Regions from separate parts of the Homo sapiens genome. Here region 1 is linked to region 2. The links come from fine-mapping of genetic effects on gene expression. Tissue or cell type: caudate. Region 2 holds a variant in brackets; the other region holds the start of a gene. All regions are shown on one strand. Distances are between the middles of the regions.

Region 1 (5,146 bases), 94 kb after region 2:
TTCATTTATATGAAATGACCAGAATAGGCAAATCCATAGAGACAAAGTAGTTTTGTGGTTGCCAGGGGGTATGGGAGTGACAGCTAAGGAGTTCTTTTGGGGGTGATGAATATATACTTGAATTAGACACTGGTGATGGTTGGACAACTCTATGAATATACTAAAAACCACTGAATTGTAAACTTTAAGGCATGACTTTTACGGTGTGTGAATTATATCTCAATAAAAAAAGTCACATGCCAGGCAGCACAGTGGCTCACACCTGTAATTCCATCACCGGAAGGCAGAGGTGGGAGGATCTTTTGAGCCCAGGAGTTGGAGACCAGCCTGGGAAACGTAACAAAACCCTGTCCGCACCCCCGCCAAAAAAAAAAAAAAAAAAAGAAAAGAAATCATCTGCCAAAAAGATATAAAATCAGCAAGTAAAAAATACAGACGACAGGTGGCATCCCTTCCTCTCTGCTCTTCTCATGCTTCTCCCATGCAAAATCCTTGACTAAAGTGCCATATATTTTACAGTTATTCTGAAAATGACTGGAACCCTAAAAATATCCAAACCACCAAACAAAAGCAGCTGCTTACTTTGATAATATTTTTGTACCATAGACCTTCCTTAAAATGCAAGTTGACAGAGGACTTATGCCACAAACCCAAACATGCACAATCCACTAGAGTTAGCTTCGAGAGATGCTGTTGTAACTGCCACTGGCACAAAACACATTCCCAAAAGAGACTCACACTCACAAAAGAGAACTACATTATTACTCAGTCTAGTCAGAAGGCAATGTCATCAGGAACCTAATTGTGATCGATGTTCATTTAGTGTTTTCTGTCTGAAGCCCAAGACAATGGGCCTCAAAAACAAAACAAAACAAAGCTCATAATAAACTAAACCACAGAAAAGCATGTCCTGTATTTAAATTGTTGGATATAAAATTGAAAAAATACAGGTTTGAAAATTGAATACTGAACCATCTAGGGTGTAATCACGATTTTTTTTAATGCATCCAATATCAAGAGAAATTAATTACTCCCAGGTGCTAAACTCACTCATTTAGTGTCAACTCTGATTCTTAATTGCTAATACAAAAACAATAATCATGGTCATATAGAATACATCTTAACTGACTGAAATGTTAGATGGTATTTTAATATCTTTCTTTTCATACAATGTCTTACATCTAGAGTCCCTATTTCAAAATAGCAGAAGGAATAATGCAGATATTTTCAAAGAGAAATAGAGATGAGTGCATTGAAAGGCCTTGAAAAGTATTCACCAAATCAGCATAATCATATCTAGATTCTGCTTCCGGTTTCGCCACTAAAATGCAAATGATGTCTGGCCTACACTGGCTTTACAAATATTTTTAAATATATAAAACCCGGCCGGGCGCGGTGGCTCACGTCTGTATCCCAGCACTTTGGGAGGCTGAGGCAGGTGGATCACGAGGTCAGGAGTTCAAGATCATCCTGGCCAACCTGGTGAAACCTCCTCTCTACTAAAAATACAAAAATTAGCCGGGTGTGGTGGCGCAGACTTGTAATCCCAGCTACTCAGGAGGCTGAGGCAGGAGAATCGCTTGAACCCGGGAGGCGGAGGTTGTTGCAGTGAGCCGAGATAGTGCCACTGCACTCCACCCTGAGCGACACAGCCAGACTCCGTCTCAAAAAAAACAGATTATATATATACATACTTATATATGTTTGTATATGTTTTATATATATATATAAAACCCAAAACATGTTGAGTCGTTAATGATGAGAATATCCAAAGACACTGTTAGCACAGCACTTTTCTACCATTTTCAGGTTATATGCAGCAAGGAAGTGCTAAGACGACCAACTAGATTAATATCAAGTATGACCCAGAGAAATTCAGATGGAATCCCACTCACTCAAAAAGCACTTATTAAGCAGTTGCGTTAATAGTACTCTGAAGATTATCCGTCCTATCGCCAATTGGCAGCGGGTTATATCTTTTTCTATATATATTCGAGGGTATAGAGAAACCATATGGCTTTCCTGTATCTTTGATAACTCTTGCCCTGTGAAACAGATAACTGCACCACTTGAAATTATATTTAGCTTTTCCTTTCAGCACTCCTCTCTTAAAATCTATTTTTCCATTTCTCTATACCTTTGTATTCCCTCTCTCAAGGAAAAGGAAATCATTTTCCTTCTGCTCTTCCAACATAGCTTCACCTTCACCTTAAATTTTAAACCTTCTAGAACAGGATTACTCTAAATGATTTTTTAAAAAGCATTCAAGATCGTATGACATATTATTCAGGCATTAACCGCATTTATTGTCAAATGCTACTGCTTCTCAATCCCTACCTCTCCCTCACTCTCGCCCCTTAGTCCTCCCCTTCCAATATCCATTTTGTCTCCACTTTCAGCTCTCCCAGGTCACTGTCCCACCTCTTCCTCAGGCTCTCTAAAATCAATGCCTCCCCGCCTACCCACCGCAGGTTTTTTACCAGTCTCCTCCTCCCCCGACTCATCACTACCCGCATGACCCCCTCGGATTCTGCTCTGGTCCCTCACTCTCCCAAACTTCGGAGGCCACCGCTACTCCCATCGCTGCCCCACAGTTTAGTGAACGCTCCTCACACCCTCCCTCCACCCCCAAAACTTCCCCTTACGACCTCCCCAACTCCCACCTTCCCCGTTCCCAGACTCCATTAGGTCTCCTTTCAAATGAATGCCTCTTCCCTACTCCAGAGTTTTCGGACAGTCCCACCCCTCAAAGCCCTCCCAGCCTTCGCCCGGCATCCGCGCCACCCCCGGGCCCACAGCGCCCCTGTGGGTGTGGCCCTCCGACCTGCCTCCGCGCCTCACGCAGCCCCTCAAGCCGGTGACCCAGCTCCCGCCGGTAGCTCTGCGCTGCCTCCACGTTCTCGCGGGCCTCCTGCAACAGCAGCTCAGGCTCCAGCTCCATCGCCCCCCTCATCTGGCCGCGCGGCCGGCGAAACCTAGCGCGGGTTCCCGACTGCACCGGGCGCCTCCAAGCGGCCCGGCGCGGCCTCGCGCAGGCGGAAGCACCGCCCAGCCCCGCCGCCCCATGCCCCACGACGACCTTGATTGACGGGCGCACGGCGGCGCCTCGCGCGGGTGGCGTCCGGGTCCCAGCGCCGCCCGCCCCGCGGCTCACCCCGCCTCTTCCGTGCTGCGGCACAGCGCCGCTGGTTGGGCCTCCTTGGGAAACGTGCTGAGGCCTGGCAAGGTTGATAACCCGCACCTTGCCAAGTGCTTCTCACAGCTCATCGCATTCTTGCCTGACCTTCAGCCCTACCTGTATCTCCATTGCTCAGATGAGGAAATTGAGGGATAAAGGGGGGAATCGGCCGGGCGCGGTGGCTCACGCCTGCAGTCCCAGCACTTTGGGAGGCCGAGGCGGGCGGATCCCTTGAGCTCTGGAGTTCGAGACCCAGCCTGGGCAACACGGCGAAACCCTCTCTCACCAAAAATACTACTACTATTACTATTACTACTACTACTACTGCTACTACTAGCAACACGTAGTGGAGCACGCCTGTGGTCCCAGTGGATCGCTTGAGCCCGGGGGCCGAGGCTGCAGTGAGCTGTAATGGAGCCACTGCACTCCAGCCTGGGCGACAGAGCGAGACCCTGTCTCTAAATAAAAAATACTTTTTTTTAAATTAAAAATTTTAAAAAATAGCGAATCGACTTTTCCAAGCCGCAGAATTTGAGCCCAGATCTGATGACAAAAGCCCTGGTCCTTAAGAGCAGAGCAGGCCTTAGGGGAATTTACTAAGACCCAGGTGTCAGCGGGGAGCAGTGGCTCACGCCTGTAATCCCAGCACTTTGGGAGGCCGAGACGGGTGGATCACTGAGGTCAGAAGTTCAAGAGCAGCCATGGCCAACCTGGTGAAACCTCATCTCTACTAAAAATACAAAAATTAGCCGGGTGTGGTGGTGGGCGCCTGTAATCCCAGCTACTCGAGGGCTGAGGCAGGATAATTGCTTGAACCGGGAGGCAGAGGTTGCAGTGAGCCAAGATTGTGCCACTGCACTCCAACCTGGGCAACAAAGCGAGACTCGGTCTCAAAAAACAACAACAAAACCCAGGTGTCACCACCCAGAAGCTCGTGGACGAATGGGGGATCCAAGAGAGAGGCCCAAGAGATGACCAGCAGGACAGCAATTCTGGCACAAGTCCAAGAAGGGTGTTGGCAAGTGTTATCTGTAAGGACCGTAGTGAATAAGCTGGGCTTGGGCTTGCCAGACCGGAAGGTATCTGTCACAATAGGTGTGACTGTATGTAATAAAACCTTATGGGCAGGGCATGGTGGCTCACACCAGTAATCTTGGGAAGCTAAGGCAGGAGGATTGCTTGAGCCCAGGAGTTTGAGACCAGCCTTTGCAACATGAGGAGACCTCCTCTCTACAAAAAGATTTAAAAAAAAAATTAGCCGCGGGTGGTGGCGCCCTCCTGTGGTCCCAGCAATTCAGGAGGCTGAGGTGGGAGGATTCCTTGAGCCTAGGAGTTAGAGACCAACCTGGGTAACATAGCAAGACCCTATGTCTATAAAAATAAAAATAAATAAATAAATAAGTAAAATTACAAGGAAAACTTCCATAAAACCAGGACATGAATCTTGGTCTCATTCAACTTTGTTTTCTTAGTCTGATGGAAGGCAAGAAGTGTGTATCTAACATATCTACACTATACCCAAAAACAAAACAAATAAGAAAATTGAAGGAAATATTCTAAAACTGCTTACCCCTAGACTTGACATTTTTAGATGCATTGTTTTTAAATTTAGAGCATGAATTCCTAAAGAGTAAATGTTCTCGAGGAAACTGGTTTAGAAGTAGATGTCAGCTAGCCATCAGACAGAGTTTTACAGAGATATCTCCATGGCATCACATTGGTCCAGAACTGACTTTTCAAGTGTACCCAGAGGATTCCAGGGAACAGACTCTTGCTAATAAGACTCACAAGAAACAAACTAAGCAGCTTGCCAATTTATTTATTTACAACAGGAATATAATTGTTGAAAAAAATCACAATAGCTGGAAAATCAAGTTATAACCAGAGAGTTGGATTCAGATCAGAATACGTTGGTCATCTGGTCAGCAAAGGCTTTTTCCCTCTCCTGTCTCCAACCTCTTCTCAGAA
Region 2 (5,146 bases):
CCCCGGTGACAAAGTGAGACTCCGTCTCAAAAAAAAAAAAAAAAAGGAGGTGGTGCCTCTGGCTGCCAGGAGAGCCTGGACATCGGAGGCAAAGGGGCCAGAGGGCACTTGGGGAGTGGCCAGGGCCCAGGACTAGAGGGGCAGATGCTGAAGACAGATGTGTGGACCAACACTGGGGTGTTCTGGAAGTATACACAGCCCAAAGACTTACTCTTGAACTGGATTTAGGGGTGAGAGAAAGAGGAGTCAAGGCTTTCAGCTCCTGGGGTTCTGGCTGGAGGGCCTGGAAGGATGGTGGCACCGTGCACTGATGTAGGGGCTTGTATTGGTCTGGTTGGGCTGAAGATGCCTTGGAGTTCCTGGTGGAAGTATACATGGCTCAGCGGGGGCTCCACTCTGGAGTCTCAGCATTCTAGGGTGCAGCCTGGGAGGAAGAGAGGGACTGCCTCTTCCGTGGGTGTCTTTGTGCCCTGACTGGCGCCAGGCTGTGCATGGCACCCTCTGATGGGGCCTGTGTTGGCCCAGCGTGTACGTGCACTGCTCTCCTTACCAGAACCCTGCAGAATAGCAGCGCAGAGGGAACCAGGGCCAGGGAGGTGAGGAGACCAGCTCAAGGTCACACAGGGCACGTATAAGGCAAAATTGGGATCTAGACCCATGTGGATTCGCTGCCCACACAACTTGGCATCGGGTGGCTTCCCTGCCCTTTTTTTTTTTTTTTAATTAAGAGAGGGTCTTGCTCTGTTGCCCAGACTGGAGTGCAGTGGCAGGATCATAGCTTACTGCAGCCTTGCAAACTCCTGGGCTCAAGTGATCCTCTTGCCTCAGCCTCCCAAGTAGCTGGGCACCACCACGCCAAATTAAAAAACAAAAAATTTGGCCGGGCGCTGTGGCTCACGCCTGTAATCCCAGCACTTTGAGAGGCCCAGGTGGGCTGATCACGAGGTCAAGAGATCGAGACCATCCTGGCCAACACGGTGAAACCCCGTCTCTACTAAAAATACAAAAAATAGCTGGGCGTGGTGGCGCATGCCTGTAGTCCCAGCTACTCAGGAGGCTGAGGCAGGAGGATCGCTTGAACCCAGGAGGCGGAGGTTGCAGTCAGCCGAGATCGTGCCACTGCACTCTAGCCTGGTGACAGAGTGAGACTCCGTCTCAAAAAAAAAAACAAATTTCTAGAGACATGTTGCCCAGGCTGGAGTGCAGTGGCACGATCATAGCTCACTGCAGCCTTGAACTCCTGGGCTGAAGTGATCCACCCACCTTAGCCTCCCAAAGCACTGGGATCACAGGCATGAGTCACCGTACAAATCCAGCCATTTTTACTTCCCCTAACCAGTTCCTCTGCTAGGATGCCTGTTGCAGTGTGAAAGAAAGCGCTTGGAGACCCTGGGAGGGGAGTACTCCTCAGCTTGGGGACACTGCCTCCACTGAACCTTTCTGTGGCTGGACAGTTGGAGAAATGAGGAAGTTGAAATAAGGAAGCCACTCCCCATCCCCAAAGTAACATGCTGGAAAATGATCTGAAAGTGACACCAGCCATGTCTAGTCACAGATGTGGGGGGAGATGCGGACGGGGGCTGGTGGCGGCTGGGGGAGTAACACGCTGTAAAATGATCTGAAAGTGACACCAGCCGTGTCTAGTCAGGGATGTGGGGGGAGATGCGGATGGGGGCTGGAGGTGGCTGCGGGGGATTTAGTGAAGAAGCTGGGGCAGTGGAGAGGGAGCTGGTATCAGGAGTGGGCATGAGAGGGGAAGCGGGCAGAGAGCTACAGGGCTGGAGAGGGGGTGTTCAGGGCTGTCTTGCAGATATTATCCTCCCATTTCCCATGTGAGGAGACTGAGGTCTGGACCAGGTGTCCTGCCCTGTGGGGATCTTTATTTATTGAGGGCCTGTGCCTATTTGTTTTATTTTATTTATTTATTTTTGAGACAGTCTGGCTCTGTTGCCCGGACTGGAGTGCAATGGCACAATCTAGCCTCACTGCAACCTCTACCTCTCGGGTTCAACCAATTCTTGTGCCTCAGCCTCCCGAGTAGCTGGGATTACAGGTATCTGCCACCAC[G/A]CCCGGCTAATTTTTTGGTATTTTTAGTAGAGACGGGGTTTCACCATGTTGGCCAGGGTGGTCTCGAACTCCTGACCTCTGGTGATCCACCCGCCTCGGCTTCCCAAAGTGCTGGGATTACAGGCATGAGCCACTGTGCCCAGCCGTGTGCTGATTTCTAAGGGCCTCTCTCAAGAAGCTCGTGTTGATAAAAAGGTAATTTCAGGTGCTCACTTGAGAGCTGTGAATTAAAAACAGGGAAAAGATGGCGGGTGAGGGCAGCAGGCGAGGACTGTTTTGTTTGCAGGGGGCCAGGGTAGGTCACTCTGCTGCGGTGACCTTGCGGCTGAGCCCTGAACAATGAGCAGCCGCAGCCAACATGCAGGGATCCTGCTTGGGGGCTGGAACTGGAATGTTGAATGTTTCAGGAACAGGAGGGAGGACAGAATGGGGCTTGGAGAGCTTGGTGGCACCAGTTCACCCACAGCCTCTGGGCTCTAGTGAGGAAATGAGACCCCAGCAGAGACCAGGGGGTCAGTTAATGTTCGGATCAACATCATTATGTGGTCCCTTAGCTCTGAGTGAAGGGCGGATTGGGAGGCGGGCAAGGAGGCCAGGACAACATACAGGTGACATAGGATGGCGGCATGGGCCTGGGTGCTGTGCTTAGAGCCAGAAGTGGGCAGGTCGCGAGATACTTGAGAGGCAGAGCCCACAGGACTTGCTGATGGCTTCTGTGAGGGGGATGACAGGGAAGGTGAGGAATCAAGGCAGAGTCTCAGCTTTGGGATCTGAGATTCATTCAACAAATAATTCAGTGCCGCGTGCCAGGCCTATTCTAAAAGTTGAGGATATGAAGACAACAATGGTGATGGCCTCAAGCAGTAATCCCAGCACTTTGGGATGTTGAGGCAGGAGGATCTCTTGAGGCCAGAAGTTCATGTTCAGCCTGGGCAACATAGCAAGACCTCATCTTTGCAAAATAAAATAAATTAGCTGGACGTGATGGCGCATACCTGTGGTCTCAGCTACTAGGGAGGCCGAGGCGGGAGGATCGCTTGAGCCTGGGAGGTGGAGGCTGCAGTGAGCCATGATTTCACCACTGCACTCCAGCCTGAGTGACAGAGCAAGACCCTATCTCTAAAAAAAAAAAGTAAAATTTGGGGATGCGGCCACCATGAGCAAAACAGTTCAATGATCCCTGCCCCATGAAGAGGACATTCTATACACCAGGTGAATAGTTCCATCTGAGCAATGGCCTGAAGGAGCCGGCCATGTGGACAGTGGGTTGGCAGAAGCTACAGGTGGAGGAAGCGACAGGTGCAAAGGCCCTGGGGCAAGGCCTGCTGTGGTCCAGGAATAGCAGGAGTGGCTGGAGCAGACATGGGGTCAGGGAGCTAACTGGGCCAATTACAAGGGTTTTGGTTTTCAGCAGGGAAATGGTAATGGGGGCTCTGATGAGAAATTCCAGGCTGGACATAAGAGATTTGAAAGTGCTGGCTCAATGATGGTACTGAGAGCCCAGGACAGCCTGAGATGGGACAGGCTGGGATGACAGCTGGATGTGACAGAGCAGGGGTTCCCATGCTGGAGGGCCCGCCTCAGAGAATGTGTGTTTCTGGCCAGCACAGTGGCTCACGCCTGTAATCCCAGCACTTTGGGAAGCCGAGGCAGGCGGATCACGAGGTCAGGAGATCGAGACCAGCCTGGCCAACATGGTGAAACCCTGTCTCTAATAAAAACACAAAAAAATTAGCCAGGCGTGGTGGCGAGCGCCTGTAATCCCAGCTACTCTGGAGGCTGAGGCAGGAGAATCGCTTGAACCCGGGAGGCGCAGGTTGTAGGGAGACGAAATCGCGCCACTGGCACTCCAGCCTGGGCGACAGAGGGAGGCTCCGTCTCAAAAAAAAAAAAAAAAAAAAAAAAAAGCAAGGCTCGCAAAACACCGGATTCCTTCTCAGCTTTCTGAGCTGAAAAGGTATAGATCCTCAAGAAGAGAAGAGTGTATGTAAGTACTTCTCAACCAGTTTACCTCTCTGACCGCTCTTACGGTGTTTGGGGGCAAAAAACTAAGGATCTAGACTCTCTAAACCGCTCGCTGGGTCCTTCTCTCCCCACAATGCACCGGGGCCAGCAGGAAGGCCGCTCCGACCCCTAATTTTCCCGCGAATTCAGTTCAAAGAGGCGGCCGGGCCCGCGATCGGCAGCGCGCACCGGCCAACCAAGCCGCGCCTCCGCGAGAAGCGCCTCCGCGTGACTGACGGGGGAATCCGCGGGCCAACGGGCTGGGCGGCCCGGCGGTGCGCGCTCCCGCCGGCCAATCAGAGCGCCGGGCGGGGGAAGTGGGCGGAGCGAGGCCTGGGTAGGGTGAGCGGCCTCCGAAGCGGAGCGGGGCTCTGAGGAGACACTTTTTCTTCCTCCCTCCTTCCCTCCTCTCCTCCTGCCTTCCCTTCCCCTTTCCTCCCCTCTCTCCTCCTTCTCCCCTCGGTCAGCCGGAGCCTGCTGGGGCGAGCGGTTGGTATTGCAGGCGCTTACTCTCCGGGGCCGCCCGGCGAGTAGCTGGCCGGGGAAGGAGGCAGGAACCGCGATGGCGCCTCAGAAGCACGGCGGTGGGGGAGGGGGCGGCTCGGGGCCCAGCGCGGGGTCCGGGGGAGGCGGCTTCGGGGGTTCGGCGGCGACGGCTTCGAGCGGCAAATCCGGCGGCGGGGGCTGTGGAGGCGGTGGCAGTTACTCGGCCTCCTCCTCCTCCGCGGCGTTACCGGTGAAGAAGTCGAAAATGGAGCACGTCCAGGCTGACCACGAGCTTTTCCTCCAGGCCTTTGAGAGTGAGTGCGTGCGAGGCTTTGAGGGCAGGAAGACCCACTCTGCCAACACCGGGGATGGGACACTCTGCTGGGCCCCCTTCCTCCTCGGGAGTCCACTTGTGTGGTAGTGGAGGGAGGAATTGAGGGGATGTCCCCCTTTCGGAGATTACGTCTCCAGGGGATCCGGAGTCCAGGGCCTTGGGAGAGCTGGAAAAGAGGGTCCGGGCGGGTTCTTGACTCCCCCAAGATTGACGCAAGAGGCTCGGGACTGGGGCCCCACGTTCAGAGCAGGCGGC

Alleles and levels. Positions count from the first base shown, and alleles are read on the strand shown. Sizes are in standard deviations (SD) of each study's normalised expression.
For the expression in caudate of the gene that starts at base 2,994 in region 1, allele G in region 2 goes with a lower level than allele A (small effect, 0.34 SD a copy in GTEx).

The links. PIP is the estimated chance that this variant, and not a neighbour inherited with it, causes the effect.
Region 1: CRLF3 starts here. The variant in region 2 is fine-mapped to the expression of CRLF3 in caudate (GTEx, PIP 0.94). The same link has a PIP of 0.9 or more in nucleus accumbens.

The regions. Positions count from the first base shown.
Region 1 is chr17:30,821,699-30,826,844 of GRCh38, forward strand. CRLF3 (cytokine receptor like factor 3) reads right to left here and starts at 2,994. Exons shown (of 8, transcript NM_015986.4): 1 at 2,825-2,994. The coding sequence starts at 2,953. RefSeq lists a silencer at 2,906-3,285 and an enhancer at 2,993-3,287.
Region 2 is chr17:30,727,253-30,732,398 of GRCh38, forward strand. It overlaps the pseudogene SUZ12P1. Among named protein-coding and RNA genes, the nearest start is that of CRLF3, 95 kb to the right of the region's middle. RefSeq lists an enhancer at 4,347-4,967 and a silencer at 4,665-4,734. The variant G/A (reference allele first, on the strand shown) is at 2,068.